Regions from separate parts of the Homo sapiens genome. Here region 1 is linked to region 2. The links come from fine-mapping of genetic effects on gene expression. A gene starts in region 2. The other region holds a variant in brackets. All regions are shown on one strand. Distances are from middle to middle.

Region 1 (9,485 bases), 100 kb before region 2:
TACAACAGGGGGCTTTATTTTTAACTCATGTGACAAGCACATGTTACAGGTGGTGGTAGTAAGGAGGGATTCTGCCTATTCAGCATCAGTGGCAGAAATGGACGTGGAAGAAGTGACGTTCTGTAGAGGCTGGAGATCCTCAGACTCTTCATAAGAATAACCCACAGGCTGCCTAGAAATTCAGCTTTCTAGGCTCAGCTCCACAATTTTGCAATTTTGTATTAGCCAGTAAGGGGTAGAGTCCCAGAAATCTTCATTTTTAACTAGCATTTCAGCTGATCCTGATATAAGTGGTTAAGATAATTTGAGAGCCTCTGGTTTCCTGACAGTACATTTTTAACATAGTAAGCATGCAAATATATAATGTCAGCAGCATCCTCTGAGTTGATGTAAAGGGGCAGGCCATGGAGATAATCTTGGATTTGGGTCAGGCTACTCTTGGGAATATCGGATAAAACATTTGTTGATATTCCTCTCAGCTTGCCTAAGAATCATTCAAAGCCATTGATTAAGCTCTCACTGTTGCCCAACATTGAATTCAGGGCTTGGGAGGGCATGAAGGAATGAGGAGTAGTGTGTGAACCTGAGAAGGCTAGGAAGTCAAACCTTACACATAGCCCCTGGCACAGAAGCTAAGCCTTAAGCCTGTCCTTGCTTCTCCCAGTTTACTTGCCACAGACTGGGACTCCAGCTGGGCTTCACCTTCCTCTGGAAGACATTCCAAGGGCTGACCCTCTCCCTTGGGTTCCTAGTTAGCATTAAAACCACAGAGCAAGATGAAGAAGATTTGAGAGAGCTTGGCTAAGGCTGGCTTTCTCATCTTCCTTAGGAGCACCAAATCTTGGACCCCATTCAATTCTGTATGCCCCCTGCCCAGTTCTGCACTTGAACATTGCAGGTGGTCAGTAACATTTGATGAAAGAATGAATGAATGAATTGCTGGCTACACAGCCATGTCAGAGTTTCTCATGGAGGCAGCATAGCATGATGGTCAGGAGTGCACATTCACGAATCAGTCAGCCTGTGCTTTACCCCCTCCTCTTCCATTTGTTTACAGTGACTTTGGGCACAGATTCTTTGCAGATCTTCCCCTTCAGAGGAAGAATCCATTTCTCTACCCACGTCTCCATAAATCAGGGCTGGCCTTGGGACTTGCTTAGACCAACAGGCTATGCTAGGAGTGAATAACATGAGGCAGGTTATGACAAAGTGCTTCTGACATTGGCTGGGAGCCCCAGTATCCCATCCACCCTCACCAGCTCCACTTCTGGGGACTAGACCCTTTCTCCACTACTCCCACCCACTGCCACAGTCCTTCCTGACAAATGTGAGTTTTGGACCCTAGGCCTCAAGAGCATTTGCAGCTTCTACCTTTCCCTTTTTGAGAAGCAACACTAAGATAGCCATGTAAGAAAGTCATTCCAGTTTACTGGAGGATGGGAGGACACATGAATAGCCAAGGCCCCCAACCAACAGCCAGCACCAACAGCCAGACATGGGAGAGACTATCTTGGACTTTCCAGCTGAGTTGAGCCTCCAGCTGAGTGCAACAGAGCCCTGGCAAGATCAGCAGAGGAACCACCTAGTCAACTCACAGAATCAGAAGGAATAATGAATCACTGATGTTTTAAATCACTGCATTGTGGGTTGGTTCGTTACTCAGCAATAGATAACTGAGACACCATGCAAAGTGATTCAGATATTGACTGGAAACCCTGATATCCTGTCCACCCCTCACCAGCCCTCCTTCTGGAGACTAGACCCTCTTCCCACTACTCCCACCTGATGCCACAGTCTTTCCTAATAAATCTGGACAGGGGCCCTGGTGCTAGTCTCTGCAGAGCATGACCTCTAAGTAGGACCCTTTTGGGAATCCTATTTGAGTTCTTTTCTTCATTCAGCAAATGTTGCTGAGTGCTTGACACGTCATAAATGCTTGTACATGCTGGTAATACATAAACAAGGCAAAAAGAAAATCCTCTGCCCGTGGATCTTGCATTCTAGTGGAGGATAAAGGAAAAAAAGTACAGTAAATAAAAAATAAATTATAGAGTGTATTAGAATGTGATAGTACCATAGGTAATCTAAGGGTGCTGAGATTTGAGGGGGTGCATATTGCAGTTTTCACGGGGGTAACCAGCGTAGGCCTCACTGAGGAAACAAGCCAGGCAGGTAATTGGGGAACAAGTGTTCAAAACACAAGGCTACTGCTGGAGCTCTGGAGTAGCATCGTGCCTAGAGTGTGTCTTTGGAGAATTGTGAGGAGACCAGTGTCTGAAGCAGAGGGTGTGAACAGGGAGAGGCATGTGGAAGAAGGTATCAAAAATAACACATTTTCTCACATAAACCTATGAGCACTCATTGGAATGTGTGCACTGGAACCAGTCTACAAAATGCATAACTAGCTGATACCTACGTCTGCTGTCCTTTATGCAGACAAACTTACATAACCAGTGCTATTTTTTGTATCATGGGTCCTGTGACTATGGACCTTCAGAAAATGTCTGTGAGAAATATTCCAGTATGGAAGAGCCTCTGCTAGAACTCAAGGCTCCCAGCATCCTTTGTCACCCAATTCTGTGACCAGAGCCTGGGCAAGAACATCCAAGGGAATTGGAGGGAATGAGTGTACAGGAGACAGATTCACAGCAACGTCTCTGTCATGGGGAGAAGGGATCAAGCATTCGTGTGATGCTCCTTCACATAGGTGGGAAAAATGTCGAAATGAGTATGTGTCTAATATCTACCTTCCCTCCTAAGCTCCAAACTCCTAGAGAGCAGGGGCTGTGTCCCTCGTGACAAGGGGGAGCTAACAAAAATTGTTACCCAACAGAATGGACACCCGGACTTCCTGAAGTCATCACAGGATCCAGTTCTACTCTCACGCATTGCGTGGAAGGATGCATCTACTGTAAGTGAGGCGGGGATTTGAGGCACAAGGGCTGACACACAGTAGCTGCTAAGTATTTGAAGAATTAAATGTTAGAGCTCATTCAGAACCTAGCCCCAAAAAGGCAGCGCCAACATTGATCTCTGTCGCCATCTTTAGCCCAAAGGCCACACTGCAGGCTCCCAGCCTCAGAAATGGGCAGGGGGATCAAGCCTCTAGATAGCGTGGAGTCTGTGCCTTTGAGGGCGGAGATTGGAATCTGCTCTGGGGATAGACTGTGTTTTGGTAGAATTCTGGTGAACCCTTTTAGTTATGCAAATGTAAAATCCAACCAGAAATAAGGTCAGGTAAACCGAATGCCAGTGCTTCAGTCCAAGATGTTAACTTTACTGTTTATATTCATTACACTTGTTTCTGTCAAGTTCATTTATGAAGTAGCTGTATATTTTAGAGAATTATATCAAGGAAAAGTTAGTATCCATTAAAGTTGTCTGCATTTTCCTTCACTTTTACTGTTTCCTCCTTAAATCTGAGTTTAGATTTCCCTAGAACTGACATGAGTTGTGTGTCCTGCGGAGTTTTCTGTACAATGTTTTGAGCCGGTATTCCTAGGGGCTATTGTGATGCGAGAGGTGGGCCTAGGATCGCGAGATGAAAATTTGGGTCAAAGGGAAGAGTGACTAGATTCTGAATCCTGGTGGAATGACTTAGGAAACACAGGTTATAGGAGACCCTGGGTTCATCGCCCTCTTGTGTGAAGTTGTTCCATAGCTTCTTGGAACAAAGACTAGGCCCCCTGTGAATCAACTGCTGCCTACATCTGGAGTCTCTTGTAAGCACGTATGCACACACAGCACACACATACACATACATGGACACGTCATGCACATACAGACACACACATTCACCCTCCCCACCCACCCTGCTCCTGGTGCTACCTGACCGAAAGCTGGCCACACTGTGTTTAATTGCCTGTTTGCTCTCTCTCTGGACCTACCAGTTCATTCTGAGATGTAAATAGTGGATAAGACCTAAAGTGTACCTCTCCCTAGAATTCACATAATAATAACCCTCTAGCCTGGTTAGGTTTTGGAGTGAAGACTTTGGTGTGGTTTCTAGGGAGGAGAAGGAATTTAAGGAATGAGCCTTGGGGCGTGGGAGAAGAATACTCTTGGCATCGCTGAACTGCACCTGTCAGAAATTGCCTCCATTCCTTACTTTTAAACCCTAGTGCCAGAAAGTCCCATCACTATTTCTACCACAGTCCTGCAGAATTTGATTCTAAGTGCTATTTGGAGTGTCTTGCAGTCAATAAATATGAGCTTTTATTCACAAGGTCTGGTTTTCCCATCTGCACTATGTGTCCTTCAGTCATAGAGACATGTCTTCTAAGTCTTTATGTCCTCTTCCTCTTCTGTGCACTGTTAGAGAATTGGCATATTTTACATGTGAAAATTTTTTTTAGTTATATAGAGAACATGATTCAACTTGGAACAGCACCACTAGTAAGTAGGAGGAGGCCTGCATTTGCCTGGGTGGTCCATGGGCACAGTTCACAAGGGAAGGGCCAGCAGAAATGAGTTACCATGTGTTAAAATAATTAATTGGGAAGGTATTAGGCTGAGATGACTCCAGCGTGTTGGGTTCCTGCCTAAGTAAACTAAAACCCAACCCAGAGTGAATGGTCATTGACTAAGAAAACGAAACTTAAGCTTAGCCAATCAGGAACCGCCGACTAACCTGCAACTAAGGATTTTCCACTTAACCAATGAATTTTTTTCTTCCTTTTGCTTCCTGAACAACTTATAAA[T/A]GGTTTTCCGGTAGCCCCTGGGTGGAGCCCTGAATCACTTGCAATTTGGCACCTTGTGATTCATGAATCATTCTCTGCTCAAATAAACTCCTTAAAATTTTAATATGCCAAAGTTTGTCTTTCAACACATGCATGAAGGTGATGAACTGGTCAGGGAAGATGAAGCAGGGGTCAGGCTGACTGTGAAATCACAGCATGGAAGCTGACCCCGGGGCAGTGCTAAACAGAAGTCAGGGAGGGAGAAGGGGAGGGAGGGGGTGGCTGAGAAGAGCTGAGGACCCAGTAGCATCTGTGTTGGCCCAGTGCTGATCTGAGGGGCCCAGGATTAAAATCTGGGTCCTGCCTGAAATACCTGGATGATTCCTTGGGGCCTCCCAGATAAAAACTCCTTCACAAGGCATTAGCAATCAGGAGCCACCCATCTTCTCATGTGAATTTGCAGCCACTCCTCAGTCCAAGCCCTGGGTCCCAGCCACATTGATGACTCACCTCAGATGTGCTGGGAGCTCTTCTCCATCATCACACCTTCCTGAGCAGTTTTTCTGCCTGGGATGCCCATCCCTGCGTTCTCTGCCTGGAAAACACCTGCTTTTTCTCTGAGGCCCAGATTATATGCTCTTTCTTCTGTGAAGCCCTGCCCAGCCCTCCCTGCCAGCTCCACCTCTAGGCTACAATGGTGTCTCTACCTGGTACCATAGCTCTTCTCACACAGTATGATGAATGTCCCATAAGAACCAAGTGATTGGCCAGATGTAGCAGCTCACACCTGTAATCCCAACACTTTGGGTGGCTGAGGTGGGAAGATCACCTGAGCCCAGGAGTTCAAGACCAGCCTGGGCAACATGACGAGAGCCAGTCTCTACAAAAAATTAAAAAAAACCTAGCTGGGCATGGTGATGCATGCCTGTGGTCCCAGCTACTCAAGAGGCTGAGGCAGAGAATGGCTTGATCCAGGAGGTCAAGGCTGCAGTGAGCCATGATTGCACCACTGTACTCCAGCCTGGGTGATAGAGCAAGACCCTGTCCTGAGGAGGAGGAGGAGGAGGAGGAGAAGGAGGAGGAGGAGGAGAAGGAGAAGAAGGAGGAGGAGGAGGAAGAAGAAGAGGAGGAAGAGGAGGAGGAGAGGAGGAAGAAGAGGAAGAAGAAGAAGAGGAAGAAGAAGAAGAAGAAGGGGAGGAGGAGGAGGAGGAATAGGAATCAAGTGTGATTATCCATTAACTTGTTTAAGATTTTGCATTTACTCAGCCTCTTCTGCATTTACCAGCAGCTGTTCTGGCCACAGCTGACATAAAATTGAGTCCCACCATGTAAACACATAGTTATAATGGGCCAGCCAGGTGATCAATTTCCCGGGGCACATACAGGCTGTGGAGAGGCAGCTCAGAGAAAGAACCTAAACATTATCAGAGCCTATCGTGTAGCTCCCGTCACACTTAATACTTGGAAGCCTGTACTTTGCCTTCAAGGCCACACATGACCCAACCCTGCTGGTCTTGCTCACTGCCTACTCCTCCCTTGCTCTCCAGGCTCCAGCCCCCACCCCAGCCTTCTACTGTTACTTGAACATACCAGCTCCTTTCTGTCTCAGGGCCAACACATTTGCTACTCTTTTGCCTTGATTATTTCTAGTCACAGTTCCTTCCTGTCCATAACCTCAGTGCAGATGTTACCTCTTCAAAAAAGTAAAAAAACAACAACAACAACAAAAAAAAAAAACCTCCCCTGACCCCCCCATCTAATATTTCCATTGAATACCTGCTGCCCTCACCTTCTAATCATGAAAAGTGCCCTTTCTGTTTTCTTGTTTGTTTATTTGCTTGTTTAGTGTTTCTCCCTTTCAATTATCAGCTACAAGGAAGTTTGGTTTTATTCACCATTCTATCCTCAGCTCCTTAAGTGGAATAAAAATTTGCAAAATGGCATTGAGGTCAGCTGCACCAAGTTTTATCTTGAGCTCCAACACTGATAGCCCATATGACCTTCAGCAAGTTATTTCACTTCTCTTAGTCCAGTTTCCTCATCTGTCAAATGGAGGTGAAAATGCTTGCCTTGAAGAGTCATTCTGAGGATGACAACAGAATGTTCTTAAAATTGCTGCCCCATGGTTGGAACTCAGAACACGCTAGGTGAATGTTAAGTAGTTATACAACAGAGGGACAGCGCCAGCAGCCTGTGCCTTCTCTGAGTCCTGATACCATGGGCTTTCTGCTCTAGCTTGATCCCAGTCAAATATTTTCCATGAAACAGAGAAGCGTTTGAGCTCTGAGGATGAGTATGAATTCCAATTGCAAACTCTCAGCTGAATTCCAGCCCTGTACTCCCAGCTATATCAAATCACCTCAACTTAGAGACTCCACTGTAACCTTAAACTCAACACATCCAGGACACACATATTGTCTGGCCCTTGCTACTACTTAAGCACCTGGCAGATAGCGGACTGTACCAACAGTCAACCACGGAATTGTGGATTCACTGTGAAGTATCTGGTAGAAAATCACAAGACTTGAGCTAGAATTTAAGTTGTAAGCAGCCCAGGGCTTTGTCCCTGTGCAGAGGACACTGAGTTCTGCCTGGGGCTTCTTGGTTGTTTCTAGAGGCTCCATAGCAGATGGACTGGAGGAGAAGCTGCAGGTAGCCTTCTAAGAACTCACCAAGTCTCTTGCATCAAACACTGGACACAGGGTCGAATAAGGCTCTGTAGTAGTTTTCTATGGCTGCTATAGCAAGTTACCACAAACTTAGAGGTTTACAATAACACAAGTTTATTATTTTATAGTTGTGGAGGTCAGAAGTCTGAAATGGGTGTCACTGAGCTGAAATCCATGTGTCAAGAGCTGTGTTCCTTCCGGAGACTCTAGAGGAGAATCCGTTCCCTTGGCTTTTCCACCTTCTAAAAACACCTGCATTTGTTGGCTCAAGGCCCCTCACTCCATCTTCAAAATTAGAAGCATGGTATCTTCCATTCTCTCTCTGACTCTCCCTTCCTGCCTCCTTCTTGTGATTAAACTGAGCCCACAAGGATAACCCAGGATTGTCTCCTCATTTCAAGATCCTTAACATAATCACATTTGCAAAACCTCTTTGGACATGTATGGTAACATATGCACAGATCTTGGGATTAGGATGTGGACATATTTCGGGGGACATTATTCTGCCTACCATAGACCCTGAGCAGGATGAGCTTGGTTTGGGGGCACAAGGCTAAAACGCAGTTTCCTGTCTCCCTACCAGCTCTGTTCAAAGTAAAACTTGGTACGGGCTGAGGGCTCACTCTCCTTGGTGAGCTGTACTGGCTGCTGGGGCTCTGCCGGGCCACACAGGAACCAGCCAGGCCAGGCAGCAGCCTCAAGCCTGAAGGCGGAGCCTGAGCTGCTCTGGAAGAAGGTGAAGCGTGTGGCCTCTTCACCACCTTTGTACAGTTCCTCAATGTTCACATCCTGTGGGGGCAAGGTGGATGGCTGCAGAATGAGAGTGCTGATGGAGGTGTTAGCCCTGGAGGCCTCTGGGGCTTGGCCAAAAAAGGACCTGACAGGGCTGGTTTTTACCCAAGGGACTGCCTTCTGCAGATTCTAGAGGGCAAGGGTCTTGGTGCTAGGTGCAGAGGGAGATGGTGGAAACCTGAGGAAGTAGGACATGTGGACCTGGCTGGGAATCCACAGATAGGCACAAAGATGCCAGAGCATCCCAGGGGTCAGGCCAGGTCTGCAGTGTCCCCTAGAATGGGGAGAGGCCTCTCACCTCCAGCTGTAGGGAAGGCCCCTCTTCTGTCTCCACACATGCCAGGCAGCGGCTCCCTCCCTGGATCCCCAGGAAAATGGGGACCTTGGTGCGGGCCAAGCCTCTGTTAGGAAGTATGCAGATCTTCTCTAGGAGGGAAGAGAGAGAAGAGTCAAGGGACAAGGGAACCCCATGTTGCAGGCTCTTGGCAGGTAAAGGCTCAGGCAGGAAGGAACTGGACATGGGCACACCTGGCCTGGCCCTGCATGCAGACTGGACGGTGAGCCAGGACTTCTGCAGGAGTCATGTCCCCTCGCTAGGAGAGGCCACAGCTGCTCTCTGGCCCTTCTCACTGTCACTGGGGGCAGCTGCTGACCCTCTGCTGGGGAGGAAAGGGAAGAAGAGAAGGGAGGGCCTATGGCAGATGGAGCATGGGGTGGAGGCCCCAGAAGCTCACCTGCACAGCAGTTGTCTGCAACAGGATCTCCCACCAGCAGCTGGCCATCTCTTGTGTATAGAGCCTTCTGGTCTGCATATTTAATTCTGAAACAGTATGACAGTGCTGATGGCCCATTCCCTTTATGCACCACTGGCCCCCAAGCCCTTCCACTTCCATGCTCTGAATCACCACCTTGAGCATTTGGGCGATTTTCTCTCCTTCACAGGTGGTAAGAGGGGAATGGTCACTCCCAAGAGCAGGTAAAGACCAGGCCAGCCTTAAAGCAAGGAAGGTCTCCTGTGTTCTTGCTTTTCAGAGGCTGTGCTTCCTGCCTTCTCATGGCTTGGGGAGGCCTTCAGAGGAGAACGGAGAGCCAATGCCCTCTGACAGAGGGGTAAAGAAAATGTTCCTGGCTTCCTGAGAAATTTCTTAGTGAGGCTCAGATGACTTTGGGATACAGTGGACCTTATCTTAAATTTTTTGGGCCTGCCCTAATTGTTTATAAATGTTTATTCTCTTTAGTACAGAGATTGAGTGTATACTGAAGTGTGATTTGCTTTTCAGATATTTTAAAGGCTTCAAAGTCATGCAGGGTATTAGCTCAGTCACCTAGTTGGTTTCAAAGATGC
Region 2 (9,485 bases):
TTGCCTACTATTACATTTATTGTTTGCCATTTCTCTCCTTTCACTAGAATCCAAGCCCCACATGGTCAGGGTTCTTTGCCATTCTGTGCACAGCTATATCTCAAGCATCTACGCAGTGCTAGAGGCCAGGAAGTACCCATACATGCGCTTAATTGAATTGGATTGAGTTGAATCAAACTGAATTAAACTGAAGTTTGTGGAACGAGGACAAACAGTCATTAAAAAATAAAAAAAGAACAAACCAGAGAGCTTGGGAATTAAAAGAGTAAAGATTGAAATTTCAGGAAATGCTATAAAAGGATGATTTCCAGAAGGGACAACACTGAAAATGTAACCATGAGCTGGCAGAGCAAAGCAAGAAATTCTTCCAGATGCAACACCAAAATTTTAAAAAGCAATGAAGGGATAGAAAGTATAAAAAATTAGATGAGATATCGTGAGATATTGAAGTGAGATTCATAACTTCCAACGATGGATGAATAGGAATTCCAAAAGGAAAATAAGGGTGAGAATATACTTGAAGAAATGATGGCCAAGAATATATCAAAGGTTAAGAAAGACAGAGCAGTGTGAAGAAGAGGCAAGAACAGCCCCCAGACTGACCAAAACCCGCACAATGCTGCATCCTGCATCCAGTGCCTATATCCCGCTGGGGTGGCCACCACCATGCCCAGGAGAAAGGCTGAAGGGGATGCTGAAGGAGATAAGCCAAGGTGAAGGACGAACCACAGAGAAGGCCCGCAAAGTTGTCTGCTAAACCTGCTCCTCCAAATCCAGAGGCCAAGCCTAAAAATGCCCCTGCAAAGAAGGGAGAGAAGGTACCCAAAGGGAAAAAGGGAAAAGCTGATGCTGGCAAGGAGGGGAATAACTCTGCAGAAAATAGAGATGCCAAAACAGGGAAGGCACAGAAAGCTGAAGGTGCTGCAGATGCCAAGTGTAGTGTGTGCATTTTTGATAACTGTGTACTTCTGGTGACTGTACAGTTTGAAAAACTATTTTTTATCAAGTTTTATAAAAATGCAGAATTTTGTTTTACTTTTCTTTTTAAGCTATGTTGTTAGCACCCAGAACACTTCATTGTTGTTTTTAGGGGAAGGGGCATATGTCACTAATAGAATGTCTCCAAAGCTGGATCGATGTGGGGAAAACACCTTTCCCTTCTAGTTTTGAGAGAGTTCCTCTTGGCTCCCAGGAGGAGGGATTCTCTGACTTTGACACACATGGCCACCTTGGCAGAAAAGCCTTGTGGTATGGAAAATAAATTCATTTTTATGTCCTCTTCTCCCTTTCCATCTTTCAGCATAGATTTAACTCCTTTAAGCCAGACATCTGTTGGGACCTGGCCCTCAATCATTGGTTACCAGTATGTCAGGCACTCTGGACTTTCCAGTGATGCCACTGAGATGGCACCTGTCAAAAGAGCAGTGGTTCTGTTTCTAGATCGTGGATCTTCAGATAAATTCTACCATTTTCATTTCACTTCCTGAAAGTCAGGGTTGGCTTGTGAAAAGTTTAAACCACATGCTAAATGTGAAATGTCAACTCTCACTCTAAACTCTCCCTGTTCAGAGCATCAGATGAAGACTTCATTGAGTTTTATAGTGGCTTTCTGATTTTTGGTAGTCCTTTGAACAAGGGAGTTTGAAGTTTGCTGCATACTCTTAACAATTGTCTGCCCATATCCTGCCTGAAATACCATGAATGTTTATGGAAAGTATCTTTAATAAAGCTGGATGCAGTTTGGCTTGGAAAAAAAAAAAGCAAAACAAGGACCTTAACTACTGACAGCCAGAATAAAAAGAAAAGTGTATTGCATGCACATAACTTAAAAGAGGCTGGGAATAAATATGCTTAGGAAGATGAGACTATTTCTTTTTTAATTCTAAAATTAGGTATTCAACCAAACACTTCTAAAAGGAAAGGCTTTTTAAATATTTTTCTTAGCTACTCACTTTTAGCTGCAATGTGGGCTGTTCTCCAACCTTCTCACAATACAAACACATTTCTGGATTCTGGATTCCCAAATAAATGGGATCCCCTCTGCCTTGCTCAAGAGCCTCTGGATACTTGCATGTGATAACAGCAACAGTGACTGTAAAGATAAGAGGAGAGATGGTATCAGTTTCCTTTTGAAGTCAGAAAGATTATTTGATTTAGCAGGGCAGTATCCTCAAGTGGATCTGGAAGAGAGCTGAAGAGTGTAATCCCAACTAGACCCACCAAATGGCCAACCCCCATATTCATTCATTCATTCATTCATTCATACCATGTGCCAATCACTGCCCTAGTAAATGAGCAAACACAGAGAGCTAAGCAGACAACAGAGTATGCTCTTGAGATTCTCACGCCTCTGCTTGAGCACATGGAGATGGGGAGCTCCTACATCAAGCAGCCCCTCTGATTCTTGGAGAGCTTGGTCCCTTTTGCAAGTTTTTCCCAATGTGATGCTGAAACCTGCCTTTCTGTGGTATTCACCCATTTAGTCATTTTAGGACACCCTGAAGTCATGCAGAACAAGCTACTAGTCTTCCATAAGACAGGGCTTCAGATGACTGACAGCAGCTTTCCTATTCCCTTGGAGGCTCCTCCACCATCTCTGGCTTCTTCATCTTAGTGGAACCCAAAGTTCTCCCTGACTTCTCTTCCCAATTAGGTGTGAAATTCTCCCCACTCCTGGTGGGCCCCATTGTAAAGTCACACTTTTACAAAAGGCTGATGCCAGCTTCCCAGCCACAGCAGTGCAAACAGTGGGGAAGGCACAGGGTGACCACTCACCTGGGGTCACACTGTCACTTCGTGGAACTGCCACAAGGTTCTGACCCTGAAGGGTCCACACTTGCTGATTCAAATCATTAATAGTCCCAGTAATAGGTTTACACACTGATTTTGGGATAGAGAAAAAAATGAAGAAATATTATAATCAAGGCTGCTTTACTAGACCCAGGAGAAAAGTATCTAACCCAGGCCATTTTGTAAGGAAGGTGTGGGGTTTGCATCCCCAAACTGACAGCACTCACATCACCCATCAGCCTAGCCTTTCTTTCTAGTGAAGTTGTGAGCTCTGGTGAGGAAGGCAAGGGCTACCAAGGGAAGTCACTGGTTTAAGAGGGCAAACTATCAAGACAGAGGGCAATGAGCAGTCTCACAGAACCTGTGTGCCAAGGCCCAGCTACCCTCTTTTGTGCCTACTCTGTGCTTGGCCCCGGTGCTGGGGACTGGAGCTGGATCAGTGACTAAGCAATAGCTCCCACCCTCCAGAAGCCCAGGGCCCAGTGGTAGGTGGGCAGCACCAGGTGGGAAGGGCAGTGTACAGAGAGGAGCAGAGAAGGCTGGGGCTTCCACAGGAGATAGCGTGAGTGCAGAGGGCCTAAGCCTCCAGAGCCCCATCCCAACAGCATTTGATTCACTTGATTGATAGACGGCCCTTCCTCCACCATCAGCGTCTCCTGGAGTGCCTCTCATAGTGTGGTTGTCTCAGCACCTGTGAAAGCAGACATAGAACAGATGAACCACAAGAGATGTTTCCAAGACCTTCCAGGACACTAGCTCCACAGGCCCTCATTCTAGACAGGGAGCTGGGAAACCTGGCCTGACACGAAGCTCTGGGCAGAAGTTCTGAGCCACATCTGGGACGAAACTTGAAGGAAGCATCAGCAAAGGGAGAACAGGTAGAATTTTCCTCCACCTGGAGATCCAGATAGTATGGTAGTGTCTCCCCTAGGAGTTCGAAGGCCAGGCATAAAATTTGACCTTAAATAACCCACAGGCACCTGATGCCCTGACTCCTCTTCTCTGAAGCCTCCACCCCTTCATCGGCATTGTTTTTGCCTAGGAGCAGGGGAGGGTCCCATGCCAGGGCCACTCTGCCAGGATCCCAGCAACTCCCCAGTAAGAAGCAGCCACACATAGGACAAAGCACAGAGCCAGCCTGATGTGGCCCTTCCCTTCATTAAGCCCAAAGCACAGATGAGAGGAAAGGCTCCAGAGGGAGGGAGAAGAGGTTTTCCAGCTATTGACTATACCTGGCAAGAAAGGGTCTTTATCTACAGTCCAGGGGACTGAATCGTGGCTCCAGCAGCTTCCAAGGTCAGTGATGGGTTCTAATGGAGCCTGGATCATTTATCTGGATGAGCAGAGAAGGAGGCTCCAGCTTCCTGGGTGGGGCATGAGAAACGTATGACATGAAAGAAAACCAGCTCCTCCTACCAGAAGATCCTGTGAGGCTCGGAGGAAGAAATCACAGAATTAGCACAAGTATCACCTGTCCGGGCTCGCTGAGAAATAAGTGTTGAGCCAATCCGCACAAAATCAACCACAAGGAAATGAGGTTGATGACAGATCCTAGGTTTCTCATAAAGGGGAAACTAAGGGAATTTCCCAGAGTTCAGCTCTCCTGTCATGTCATTCTAGAGCTAGAACTGGAAATGCCAGGCACTCTCATGTCAGGGACTCCATCTCCTGGGACTGGGAGCCTTGCCCTCTGCAGTCAGGCTAAAGGCATCCTGTAAGAGCAAAATTAGCCACACGTCTCAGGCAAGGTCCCTGTGGCATTTCTCAACTACCCCACCTAAGGCCACACCTGAATGGAAAGCCAGGCAGTAGAGCTCCCCTACCTAACACTCTTTCAGCTCCATCCACATGGGGAGCCACAGGGACTATGCAGACTGGTCTTTTAACTGAGGCAATCCTAGTTTCAGGTACCCTCAAAATGCAGTGGACTCCAGAACTGCCTAAGGAAGTAAAGAGGTGGGCAGCGATTTCTCCCAAATCTGAGCCCCAGATGCCAGCTTATCCCCCACCCTCTGCCCTAGGTTCCTGATCAGTGGTAATAGTTATTTTTATATCTTGTTTATACACCCCATCCTATCTGCTGTAGCCAAGCCTAAAAATTTACTGAGGTATAAGTTAACTACTAGAGTGAAGTGAGTTTTAGGAGACAGACTTGAAGCACTAACAGCTTCAGGTTTACCCATCTATAAGGAAGAAAAGCACAAAGAATGAGACAGAACCTTCCAGATAAGCTCATCCATGAGCCCCTCTTCCCAGCCCTGCAAAGAGTCTCCTGACTCAACGTCTCTTACTTTTCACCCTAATCTCCTTTCTGGCCTTGGAAGAACACAGTCCTTTCCTGCCATGGCCCCAATTCTATCACTTTTGGCTTCCAGTGTTTCTGTGACCCTAGGAAAGAGTGTGGTAATGCCAGGTGCACTTTTGTTCAAAGTCAACCTGAGCCAGTGCCACCTCACTTGAGTCTCCATTGCCCTGTTAAAAATCCCCTCCATTACACATCAGTCAACATAACTCCTTTCTTGGGATGTTCACCACAAAACAGCATCTAAAATTCCCATCATTTGACCCCCCAAATCCCTTAAGCCTGAATTTCCAACTGGGATCCCTCTGAAAGCAGAATCCATGCTAGGAATTGCAAACAAAGGGAATTGAATAAAAGGAACTAGATACACGTGTGTTGGAAAGCCAAAGAAGATTAAGGGATTGCTGTGGTATCTCAGATAGTAACAACTACAGGAAGGAAACAAAAGGGAACAAAAGAACCTAGGTCTCAAAGGAGCGCTTTTGTAGGACTTATCCCCAGATATGAGTCGGAGGTGAGGCGTTCTCTGCCAAATTGATGCTCAGACCTCTGAAAAGAGAGTACAGTCTGGTCAATGCTTGGAGCATGAAGGTGGAGGGGAGGGGTCAAGAAGAGGATGCTCAGAGGACTCACAGGACACAGCTCTAACAGCTGAATTTTCTTTGGTTCAAAAGCCTGTGGGTACAGCTAGAACTTCCCACGCCCAGATGAAGGTTGCAAAAACTATAAAAGAGGGTGACATGTGTCCTCTTCAGCCTCCGCCCTCATTCCACTTGGTCCTGACCCTTCAATAGATTCCAAGCACTCAGAGAATCCAGCCCTTCCTAGAATTCCCAGCACTCAGCATCCATCCTGAAGTCCCTAGTTTAACTGTTAGTGTGAATAAGTATCAGAGAAATTGGAGGGAGTAGGAGTGATGATGATAAAAGGGGAGAACTGAATCACTGGGGTTGATCAGTAAAGAGCAGAGATCACATCTACTGAAGAAATGGCCCCGAACGTTTATCTTAAAGTGGAAGGGATGGATGTTATAATTACATGATACCCTGGCTGTACTTGAGAAAACCATCAATATTGATTCTGGTTATAAAAAGTAAAGAACATAGCGTTGCTATATTTTATTTATTACCATTGATTGTTTTATTTATTATCAACGATTTATTATCATGGAGAACAATGACAATGATGCTTATCATTAAGTGTGGCTTGAATTTAATTACCATAAGTACTGACAAGGCCAAATTCCCTAGATATGAAAATGATTTTAAGAAAACACTTAGTCCAGATTCTAATTTCCAAGCTCTATGACACTGTCAATCTACATTCATTTGGTAATAAGCCCTGCTACTAGTTTGTTCACTTAACATGCTCATTACCTTATTAAGTTGAGGGAATATCAATGAAATGCAGGTAGGGTAAGAGAACTTGATTACTGACCACCACTACAATCTCTAGAATCTCTACAACACCTTTTTCATGAAACCAGGCACACAATCATAACAAAGCAGAGGGAGCCATGGAGCAGTAAAGGTTATTCAGCCCCCACCATTGCCAACCATAAAAAAAATCACCTTAGTAGTAAAATTAAACTTAGAATCTATAACTCCGGACTCCAAATGCAGAGCTCTCTGCTGGAGTCATAGGTCCTCCTTGGGGCCCCCAAAGAGGACCAAAGCCATGTGGCCTATTACCTATCAAGGGCTATCTACAAGCAGGCTGGCAACCTGGCCTGAAGATTGCCACTGGAAAGAAGTTGGCATTCATCTCGCTTAAATTGGTGGGGCAACATGGTGTGTACCATGAACCACAGAGACCAGTGTGGGGCCATTTGTACTCTAGTGGACTTGGGAAAATGCCAAGGAAGCTCTTGGCATAGGCTCTGTGGTAAAGCCTTTACCCAACGTAGATGGAATGATGTGCATGGACATGGCCGAAAGCCTCTGCTCCTCCACATAGCCCAAGCCCATTATCAAAGACTTGCTTCCTATGAGCTGATCCATTACATCTTCCTGAAGCTGGTTTCTATGAAACCCCAGACTTTGGCACATAGGCCAACACGCTATTTAAATGAAGGACAGAGTAACAAAAATAACCCCAAAGCTACACATCAAAATGGCAGTAATAAATAGAAACATTAAAAGAGTTAAGACTAAAGAACCAAACCATATAGGACTATTGTAAAGGCATATTTCTCTAAATTTAAAACAGTTATTGGTTAAATTGTCATTTATGTGCAACAACAACAAAGAACTAAAGCAATAAAAAGCCTTAATTAGACAGCACATAGTGCAACTCCTGAGAAAGGGGTCCAGGTTAAATGCCTAGAGTTTGAAATTCCTAGACAAAGAGCCAAATGACAGAGAACCCTTAGCCTTCTTTGCCCCAAATCACACAAAGTGCAAAATCCATATAAAAAAAAAAAGATGATAAATTGAATATCACCCAAATTTTAGAATTTTGGACAAAACACATCATGAAATGAATTTAAAAAGACAGACTACCCAAGATAAAATATTTGTAACACATCTAACAAATAATTAATATCCAAAGTTTATAAATAATTCTTACTAAGCAGCAGGAAAAGTGCAAATAATTCCATAGAAAAATGAGCAATTGACGTAAAAAGTATTTCACTGAGTAGAAAATATAAATGTCCAATAAATATAAGTAATTATAGTAAACCACACTGGTAATTAGCAAGATGCAAATCAAAGCAATACTGAGATTCAGTTTCCACCCATTAGGAAGGCACAGATTAAAAAGATAGTAGGCAATAGTGTGAGACAATAGATTCACTCACCACATGGATGGCCGTGTGAATCATTGCAGACTTTTTGGAAAGCAATTTTGTAGAGGCTATTAAAAATGATAATGTGTTTACGCTTGGCCCCATATGTGTACTTATAAGAGTCTATCAATTTAAGTTATTTTCAGCTTCGAAACCTGAAAAATCCTATTCAAGTGGCTAAAACAATAAAAATATTTACTAGGTTACATAATTGGAAGTCTAGGATTATTAATTATCAGAGTTGCTGACCTGATAGTTGTATAAGGTGAGCAAGGACCAGTATTTTTAAAAATTCTCTCTGGTCTTAAGTTTAATTCATAACTTAAGGCCAGGTTTCTCCAAGGCCATTAGAGGGCTGCCTGTGTCAATCAGAACTGTATGCTCAGTCATTCACATCTTGTAGAAAAAAGGAATATCTCCCCTACAACTATCAAAGACTTTCTAGTCTATTTGGGCCAACTTGGGAGCCATGCTGTGTCAATTGGGGTGCTAACAAAAAAACAGATGACATGTTCAAATTTGGCAATTGGAGGTAAATGTCATGAAGGAGTTATTTATAAAGATATGGGTAGAGTACAGGGAAATCCCAAGGCATAGTACAGAAACTCAGGCTACTAAAAGTGGGGTATACCTCTGGCCGCCCCTAGGCCTGAAAGGACAAGAGGAGGTTACTAGAACGCAGAGAGAGAAAGAACTTTGTGAACAAGGCCACCTAATAGGAGCTGTGACCTTCATCAAGAAAAATAGCCTGCAGTGACCCCATGGGAAAGGAACCAGGGAATACAGTCATGCATGGCTTAATGACGTTTCACAGTGCAAACATCACAGAGTGTAGGCACAGCCTACCACACACCTAGGCTATATTGTACAGCCTATTGCTCCTGTACAAACCTGTACAGCATGATACTATACAGTGAAATTGCTGACCCCTCAAAGTGATAAACATATGCATCTGAGGGGATAATGTTACATATACCTGCTGTGGTCAGGCACTCCCAAGACTGGACAAGAAAGCAAAGCCAAGGGCTGCTGAGATCATGGCTATGAACACTCCTGTGCAGGGCCATAAAAACCACAAAGAAACTGGCCATGGCGAGATGCCTGTAGAAGCTCTGCTCATGAGAACTCTGAGTCCTTTTTTCCATCTGGCATCGCCACCAGGAGCCCTACCGGGAAAAGAGCAATGAGAACCACCTCTCTCCAACCCCCTGCAAAATATATTTGCATGATTGCTAGTGTATGAAAGCCTTGCAATAAGCCATGAATTCATGAGCATCTAATTGGCCATTGAGTCACTGTGAAACCTCTTTCCCTCACCCCCACTCCCATTCAAGTTAGCACAAGTACGCTGATTTTAACCCGACATGACATTCCCATTCTCTAAGTTCCTTTCACTACACCCCCTTGGCCAAACCCAGAAGCCAAGGGCAACTAGAAGCCAGAAGGCAAGGAAGCCCACAGATGCAGGTCAGCCTCCTGGGCAGACAGCCAGGAGAGAAGCATGGAGGGTGGATTTGGAAAGGTAATTGGAAGTTATCCAGCATAGTCCATGCCTCTTGCCCCTCAGGACCATATTCTTCTTTCTTGGGTAAGACATTTGTGTTC

Alleles and levels. Alleles are on the strand shown, and positions count from the first base shown. SD is a standard deviation of normalised expression in the study named.
For the expression in monocytes after LPS of the gene that starts at base 4,095 in region 2, allele A in region 1 goes with a lower level than allele T (moderate effect, 0.63 SD a copy in Quach 2016).

The links.
Region 1: its variant is fine-mapped to the expression of IL36G in monocytes after LPS (Quach 2016, PIP 0.95).

The regions. Positions count from the first base shown.
Region 1 is chr2:113,073,804-113,083,288 of GRCh38, reverse strand. IL1F10 (interleukin 1 family member 10) reads right to left here. Exons shown (of 5, transcript NM_173161.3): 3 at 8,875-8,960; 4 at 8,439-8,566; 5 at 7,446-8,137. The coding sequence ends at 7,925. Among named protein-coding and RNA genes, the nearest start is that of IL1F10, 11 kb to the right of the region's middle. RefSeq lists an enhancer at 4,220-5,419. The variant T/A (reference allele first, on the strand shown) is at 4,701.
Region 2 is chr2:112,972,616-112,982,100 of GRCh38, reverse strand. It overlaps IL36G (interleukin 36 gamma), which reads right to left and starts at 4,095. Exons shown (of 5, transcript NM_019618.4): 1 at 4,023-4,095; 2 at 3,408-3,481; 3 at 2,776-2,880; 4 at 1,953-2,092. The coding sequence starts at 3,462. It also overlaps the pseudogene HMGN2P23.